2 linked regions of the Homo sapiens genome follow. The protein of the gene in region 2 purifies or fractionates together with the protein of the main gene of each other region. This does not show direct contact. Each region holds a gene or a part of one and is shown on either strand. Other genes may lie near its edges.

Evidence for each region. Proteins that work in one complex are often made in the same cells at the same time.
Region 1: the proteins of CCDC78 (region 2) and CASQ1 purify together in Homo sapiens (affinity purification with western blotting; one study listed by BioGRID). This does not show direct contact.

The regions. Positions count from the first base shown.
Region 1 is NC_000001.11:160,197,075-160,200,574, reverse strand, and holds part of CASQ1 (calsequestrin-1 precursor), read right to left. Parts: intron 3,007-3,500; coding exon 2,961-3,006; intron 1,899-2,960; coding exon 1,844-1,898; intron 1,623-1,843; coding exon 1,522-1,622; intron 725-1,521; coding exon 650-724; intron 1-649. UniProt on the Homo sapiens protein: Calsequestrin is a high-capacity, moderate affinity, calcium-binding protein and thus acts as an internal calcium store in muscle. Calcium ions are bound by clusters of acidic residues at the protein surface, often at the interface between subunits.
Region 2 is NC_000016.10:723,235-727,633, forward strand, and holds the start of CCDC78 (coiled-coil domain-containing protein 78), read right to left. Parts: upstream 3,210-4,399; 5' UTR 3,134-3,209; coding exon 3,074-3,133; coding exon of another isoform or gene 2,852-3,073; coding exon 2,732-2,851; exon of another isoform or gene 2,647-2,731; coding exon 2,560-2,646; coding exon of another isoform or gene 2,347-2,559; coding exon 2,179-2,346; intron 2,060-2,178; coding exon 2,003-2,059; coding exon of another isoform or gene 1,912-2,002; coding exon 1,844-1,911; coding exon of another isoform or gene 1,756-1,843; coding exon 1,677-1,755; coding exon of another isoform or gene 1,673-1,676; exon of another isoform or gene 1,573-1,672; coding exon 1,447-1,572; exon of another isoform or gene 1,276-1,446; coding exon 1,088-1,275; intron 972-1,087; coding exon 872-971; intron 703-871; coding exon 623-702; intron 1-622. Other genes in the region: HAGHL (hydroxyacylglutathione hydrolase-like protein), read left to right, coding at 4,276-4,380. UniProt on the Homo sapiens protein: Component of the deuterosome, a structure that promotes de novo centriole amplification in multiciliated cells that can generate more than 100 centrioles.

The DNA of each region.
Region 1 (3,500 bases), on a different chromosome or scaffold from region 2:
CCCTGAATCATCACTTGTTGAAATCGTATACATTGTAGAATCTCCATTTTGAATATCACTTTTTCTTAAACTTTTCTCTGATTCTGTCAAGCAGAAATCAATGTGATCCTGTGTCTTATTTGTATCGTTATTATAAAGTTTATCAGATCTGGCCTTGTAGTTAATGGAACACTTGCCTCTCTAATTAGTCTGAGAATTCTATGAAAGCAGAGACTGTGGCTCATTCAGTTCAACTTAGCAGTTTTGAAGCACCTACTGTGTGTGCATAAGAAGACTTCTGCCCTGAACAAGCTCAAAAATCTACTGGAAGAGACACACATAATACATAAATAGCCATTTAAATGTCATGTTCTCAATGGCTATTGAGCCCTGGGAGTGCCAGGGAGGGAATGATTTTAAATGGGAGATCTGGAAAGACTTCACAGAGGAGAAAGAATTTGAACTGGGCCTTGAAGGATGAGCCACTGATTCCAACATGTGGGACAGGGCCACATTCAGATCCTAAGTCTCCCCCTCCATCCAGCCACTAGACTGGGCATGTCTGCGTCCTGTGAGAAGGGCCCAACTCCTAGTTAGCAGAGAGGAGGAGAGCTAGCTATGCTAGGAAGTAGAGTCGGGGGTCAACCCGGGATGAGGACAGGAAACTCACATCAGTAACATTGACGACTCCTATTTGTGGGGCTGACAAGTCGATGTCAAACGTCTTCTCCCAGTATGGGACCAGCTGTAGAGAGATCAAAATACAGCAACTTAATAGATACTAGGGAGCACATGAATCCAGGAGGATGAGTGTGAGGGTCAGCCCAGGGATGGAGAGGGGACAGTGCGAACTGGCAGTGGATGGGGACAGGTCCACCTGTGAGGGCATCAAGGCAAGGGTAGAACTAAACAACAAAAGAGGAGAAATCCTAAAGGGAGAGAATCGGGAGGGTCAGCTGGGTGCACTGGCCCCTCTTTTCTGAGGAAAACTGGATAGGAAACCCTGTTCTGATCCTGGATCAGATCCTTGTGTTCAAGGTCAAGTCACTTCTCTCTGGCCCTCAGATCTTACATTTCTAAAATAAGGCAAGTATACCTGGTAAGTGCCAATGTTTCTCACGTTTCTCTTTGTTCTTTCAGTTACTCATTCAACAGCGAGTGCTAGGTGTTGGGAATGTAGCTGAGAACAAAATCATCTCCTGAAACAGGGAATCTCTGTGCTATGATTCTATGATTGAGTGTGTATACCCATGTGCAGGACTATTGTGCCTCACAACATTGGTTTTCTTTAGGAGTCAGCCCTAGCACCTGAGCTACCCATCCAGCCTCTGCTCTGGGAATGTGTGTGATGTCCGTCCTGTTTCCCCTTGCTCAGGATGCCCTCCATGCCAACAGTGCCCTTAAGCATGCAACACGCATACCCTCCCAGGGCCCCCCAGCTAGGAGGTGGGGATGGGACCTCTGAAACAAAGCCCTCACTAAGAAGATGTCACAGTCCAAGGCCCCACCTTAAGATAGCAGTGCCTGAGCTGTGCCTCTTACCAGGGGGAAGTCATCAGGGTCAATCCAGATGATGCTAAGATCTGGGTTTTCAGTGTTATCTTGGGCCACAGCCTTGAGAGTCTCTAAGAACTCGAAACCATCTTGGAGGGAACACAAGTACAAGGTATGAGGTGTGTAGAGAGGAAAGGGACCCAGGTGAAACAGGAGTGCAGAGCTACCTCCCTGCTCCCCAAGCTTCACATGTCTAGCCCTAGGCTGTTTGCAAACTCCCAGGAAAGCCTCCTAGTGAGGCCCATGCTCCAATAAACACACCCACCTCCCCCTGCCTTCCCTCCAGTCCAACCCGGTATTCCTCCCTCACCAGGATCAGCTTCCTCTGCGAAGGCCACAATGTGGATTCCATCCATATCATCCTCCTGTCAGGGGGTAAGAAGGAGAACAGGGTTTTGGAGAAGACCTTACTATACTCCCTGAAGTTGAGGAGCCCAGAACAGATCCTAGATGTTCATTGAACCTCAATTTTGTGGAAATCCAGCTTCAGGACCAGATATATTCTTTCGTTTTTTGGGGTTTGTTTTTTTTTGTTTTTGAGACAGAGTTTCACTCTGTCCCCCAGGGTAGAGTGCAATGGCGCGATCTCGGCTCACTGCAACCTCCGCCTCCCGGGTTCAAGCGATTCTCCTGCCTCAGCCTCCTGAGTAGCTGGGATTACAGCCATGCGCCACCACACCTGGCTAATTTTGTATTTTTAGTACAACATTGTTTCACCTTGTTGATCGGGCTGGTCTCAAACTCCTGACCTCAGATGATCTGCCTGCCTCAGCCTCCCAAAGTGCTGGGATTACAGGCGTGAGCCACTGCGCCTGGCCATATATATTCTTGTGATGGTGACCTTTTTCCAAGTGACACTCCTTTCAGCTCCAAGGCCCCACACTTCCTCTGATAATCCCTTTATCCCCAGGCTTGAGGCTCTTCCCTTGTCATCTTCAATTATGTCTGTCTCCCATTTCCTCACACATTCTTCAGTGTAGAAATCTTTCAGTTGCTGCTAGTGCACTGTTTTTTCTTTTTTCTTTTTTTTTGAGACGGAGTCTCACTCTGTCCCCCAGGCTGGTGTGCAGTGGCGGATCACTGCAAGCTCCGCCTCCTGGGTTCAAGCCATTCTCCTGCCTCAGCCTCCCAAGTAGCTGGGACTACAGGCGCCCGCCACCACACCCTGCTATTTTTTTTGTATTTTCAGTAGAGATGGGGTTTCACTGTGTTAGCCAGGATGGTCTCGATCTCCTGACCTCGTGATCCACCCACCTTGGCCTCCCAAAGTGCTGGGATTACAGGCATGAGCCACCACACCCAGCTGGTCAGTGCACTGTTTTTTCTAAAAATGGGCCTGAGGAGCAGTAGGGTGGGGTTTTTCTAGGACTTGAGTCTTCTGGCACCCATGCTTCCCTGAGGGCTTGACCCTGGCCAGGGGCACTCACCCAGGTCTCATACATACTCTCCGGCTTCAGTTTCCTCAGGGTTGATCTAGAAGAGACAGACAGAGTGTCATTACTCAGTGGGTTAGAAGGATGCCCCCTCCAGAGGGTCCTGTAGCAAAGGCTGCCTCTAGGTCAGGCCCAGGGCACAGACAGCTTGTAGCCTACAACAAAGCCATCTGGCAAGGCCTCAACTCTGGGCACCAGGCCCGGCTCATTGCATGGTTAAAGCGGTGGGAGAGGGGAGGGTGGGCAAAGGGACTGGAAGAGAGACTGGGGGAGAAAGGCAAGAACTGGACATCAGGATATTCATTAATTTATTCATTCATTCACTCACTCACTATGATTGAGTGCCCGATATGTTCTAAGCACTATGCTAGGTGCTGGGTACATACAGTTGAACCAGGCAAGCATGTTCCTGCCTTGATGAAGGGAGCCAGTAGTATGGGAGAGTAAGTACTGTATATACTGCAAGGGAGCTTGCAGTGATCCACCACTGCACGCTAGCCTGGGGGACAGAGTGATTGGATATTTCCAGCTGTG
Region 2 (4,399 bases):
GAGTCAGGTTCCCAGAGCCGGGAGGGGACACCTGGGAGTGAGTGAGGGAGGCATGGGCCCCCCCCGTGCTCCTGTGGCGCCCCCCCCAGGCCTTGGAGCCATCCGTGTATAGGGACAGCCCGGGCCCAGGGGGTCTGCTGGCTGCTGGGGGAGGGCTAAACCACAAGGCCAGCCCAGACAGTGACTCCAGCATCAACAGGGATGCCACCCCCACACGGGTGTGCCCTAAACCCCAGGAAATGGTCCTTGGGGAGCCCTGCCCATTGTACAGCTGGGAACATGGAGGCCCAGAGGCAAGGGCTGGCCCGGTCACCAGGCGCCCTGCTCCCACCCCTCGCGTCCTCCAGGTCTCAGCGGAAACCTCCCTCAGGTGTGCTCTCCCTGATCCTCCGTGTTCAAGGCCAGCTCCACCTGCAGCAGCCCCTCTTCTCTTTCCTGTGATTATCAGTGTCGCCGGGACCCACGGAGGGACCCCAGGGTGGGGATGTGCCACTGAGTGCATTGCTGTGACCAGACCCTGTCTGGCGGGGGCTTGGTGGAGCAACTGGGGGCCCCAGGGTGCAGGCGTTGTGCTCTCTGCTCATCCCCCACAGGCCTCCCCCACACCCATGAGGGCACTCACTGTGGCTCTGATGTTCCCCCCTGGGAGGCTCCACCGGGTCTCTTTTTTGGGGATGAGAGCAGTGCCCCAGGCCCGCCGTGCTACAGAGGTTTGTGGTGGGGACGTTTCAGTTGGCTGAACAAGGCAAGCCCCTCAGAGGCCCGGGGCTGAGGTCTCTGTTGAGCCCAGGATGAGGCCTGGGGCCAGTGTGGGGCAGTGGGTGGGTGGGGGGCACCCGGGCCTGGAGCTTCTGGGGGTCTCTAGCCTCACCTGGTCCTCCCGATGGCTGAAGTCAGTGACCAGGGGCACGGGCAATGGTTCCAGGTCCAAGCTGGCTATGTCAAAAATAGCTTGGGGGTTCCCAGGTGCCCTGTCAGGGTAGGCTAGTGTCTGTCTGGGGCCACTCCTGCTGCACACCAAGCCTTTGAGGCACAGAGGCTTAGAGACCCACAGATGCCTGACACCTCCCATCCCAGCGGGGCCCACCTGTAGGCAACCAGTAGCTCTTCATGCCTGCGGCTCAGATCCACCAGCCTCTTGTGGTAGCTGCGGGCAGCCCGGGCCAGCTGCTGCTCACGGCTGCGGTGCGCTGCCCGGATGTCCTCCAGAGTCGCCTCCAGGAATGTCCGGAGGGCCGTGGTGGCTGGCGCTTGGCCTGCACCATCTGCGTGCTCCTGGAGGCGGCGGGCTGGGTCCGCATGGGGCCCACCCCCCATCTTTTCCAACCATCCCCCCACCCCAGCAGGCTGAGCAGTGCCGGGGCCCTGGGGTCTCCCTGAAGCTATCCAGCACACCCAGGCCAGGCTTGGGCTCCCTAGGCCTCAGGGTGCTCCTGCAGGGCTCACCACTGCCTGCCAGGCGCAGTGTTGCAGCCGTAGGACGTACTCATCCTTCAGTTTCTTGAGCTGCAGCTGCAGCCGGGCATTTTCAGCCTCTGCCTGACGGAGCTGGCCTTGGCAGCTGCACAGCACCTGGGGTGGAAGCAGCCCTCCACCTGTGCCCTGAGAGTGGACCCCGGCTGAGCTTCTGGGGCCCCCACCCTCCAGGTCTCCAAGCAGTCAGGGCAGAGCCTCACCACAGCCTGTGTGGCCAGTCGCTGCCCGGCTGCCCTGGCCTCCTCTCGGGCTCCCTGCAGCTGCCGGCCCAGGGTTGCCCTGAAGACACGGGGGTGAGGCTCAGCAGGCCCACGATCAGGGGTTCTCTCTGCTCCAGGATGGGGCCCCAGGTGAGATGGCCACTCACACACGCGTCACCAGTGCCTGCTGCCGGGCCTCCTGATGCTCCAGCGCCCACTTCACTTCCCCCTGCAGCTGTGGGGCACACAGGGCTGGCTGGATGAGACCCTAGGCTTGGGGTCTCTGGTGCTGCCCTCTCCCCTGAGCTAGGTGGCTGCACACTCACGCCGCTCCCCAGCCTGTGCTGCTCATTCTCGGGGTTCATGGTGTTCTTGGGCTGCACCTGAATGGAAGGGAGGGCAGGGAAAGCTAAGGGGTGGGTGAGCCCCAGTTTCACTGAGGCCCCTGCTGAGGCTTCCCTCTGGCCTTTCCCAGCCAGGCTCTCCATATGCTCATGGTAACCTGGAATCTGTGGTCATCAGAGTGTCCAGGCACCTGGGCTTTGTGTCTGAGCTCTTGGGCTGCTGCCCGGGGATGCCTGGGGTCAGACTCCACTGGGACTGCACAGCCCTGGCTGGTGCCATCTCCTCGCAGCTCCAGCTCCAGTACCCGGCTCTCCAGCCGAAGGATCTGTGGGACAACTGGCATGAGCAGGTGCACCTGCCCGCGGGCCACCTGGGGTAGGTGAACATTCACCCGGTGCACGCTCAGGGGCGCGCAGCACTCAGAGGCAGGCTGAGACCCACAGATGCCATGTGCGTGTGCATGCCCATGCAGGGCACGTGTCCTGGGCCTGCACCCCCCGTCCCCCATGCACTGAGGCTGGTTCACACGGCTGCTCACCTCACTCTTCAGCTGGAAGATTTCAGCCTCATGCTGCTCATGTAGGTGGTGGGTTGTGATCTGAATGTCGACCAGCTCCTTGGAGATCTGTGGGTGGCCAGGTGAGAGGTGGCGTCTGTGGGCCCTGCTGGCACCCTCCCTCCTCACGAGCACGCTGGGGCCCCACACCCACCTGCAGCTGCTGCTCCTTATTGAGCGCTAGATCTGGTGGGACCTCTGCTTCCAAGCTGGTGGCCCACACTGCGGTGCCCCCAGGAGCTCCTGGCAGCCAGTCCTTGGCTCGTAGCACAACCTGGGGAGGTACCGCCACCCATTCCCCAGGTGGGTCCCAGGCTGGGCTGTGGCCCCACTCCCATGCAGTCACCAGTCCCGCCTCCCTGCCTGGCTGAGCTGTAAAAGTCCCTCTCCTGGCTGAAATTAGGCCCAGGGTGCAGGAACCTGCACCCTCCTGGCCTTTGGGGGAACGGGCAGACTTCAACCCCATGGCAGGAGCGGCAAGTCCCAGAGGACTCACATTCTCCACCCGCCGAGAGGGAGGTCCAGGCCTGGGGCCTGTGGTGGCTGCGTGCTCCATAGGCTAGGGAACCCTGGCCAGCTCCGAGCCCGGTGCTGCCTCCACGCCCGGCTTCCCCATGGCTGCTGCTGCCACTGGCACTGCTAAGTGCGTTGCCAAGGCCTCTGTTGGTCCCAGGTGACTCCCAGGGCACCGCCCACAGGGGCCGGCCAGACCGGTGGTTGCTGAGGAGGGAGGATAGCTCTTCCTCTCTCCATGCCTCCGTTTCCCCATCTGGGGAATGCGGCCCAGCGCCCCCTGCACATACCCTGTGCAGATGGAACCAGGTGCGTGAAAGCGCCCAGCCTGGGCGCAGCGGACGAGCACGCGGAACGGAGCGGCAGCCCGCCCGCAGGATGCCCTGAGCTACACTCGCTGGACACCTTCTGTGTACCTAGCAGTGCTGGCTGAGCCCCGGGACGGGGGAAGTATATCTCTGCACCTCTGGCCTGAGAAGAGGGGCGCAGACGTCCCCATCAGGGGCCGGAGAACTCGGAAACGACTGGCTCAGCCGGGGCGTCGGGAGGGCTTCCTGGAGGAGGTGCCAGCGCCGGGCGCGGCGGGGTCGGAGCGTGCGCGTGGCGCCCCACCGGGCACGCGCACCGCCGGCGGGCCTTGTGGTCTCATCGCGCGCAGGATCCGGGCCGGGCGGGGGCGGGGGCGGGGCGCGTCCGCGGAGGGGGGCGGTTGGCGGCTCCCGAGCCCAGCGCCGCGCTCAGTCCGGACCCCGTGACCGGCGGCCGAGGCCCCGCCTCCGTCAGTCTGTCCTTCGGGTCCTCAGCACAGCCGTGCCGGTGAGGCGGGCGGCGGGGGAACGCGGCTGTCCCGGGTCAGGGGTCTTGCGGCGGCAGGGCGGGGGGCCGAGGGGCGGGGCCTGGGAGGAAGGCGTGGCCTTTGGGGACTGGGGCTCGGACTGGGGGCGGAGCCGGGGCTGGTTGGGGACCGGCCGGGTTCCGCTCCTGCTGGAGCCCGGTGCGTGGAATTCCACGCGAGTGCCGGGGAGTTCCTGGGGAGCCGGGCTTCTCTTTTGGCCCCCAGCGTGTTGACCGAGCCCGCTTCGCACAGCCCTTCCTAGGGTGTGGAGAGCGGGCCCCGCCCTGAAGGGGCACCGTGGGCTGGGGGGCCTGTTTTGGAGCAGGCACCGGTGGCCGAGCTCCGTGACCATGAAGGTCAAGGTCATCCCCGTGCTCGAGGACAACTACATGTACCTGGTCATCGAGGAGCTCACGCGCGAGGCGGTGGCCGTGGACGTGGCTGTGCCCAAGAGGGTGAGGGCAGGCCGCGGGC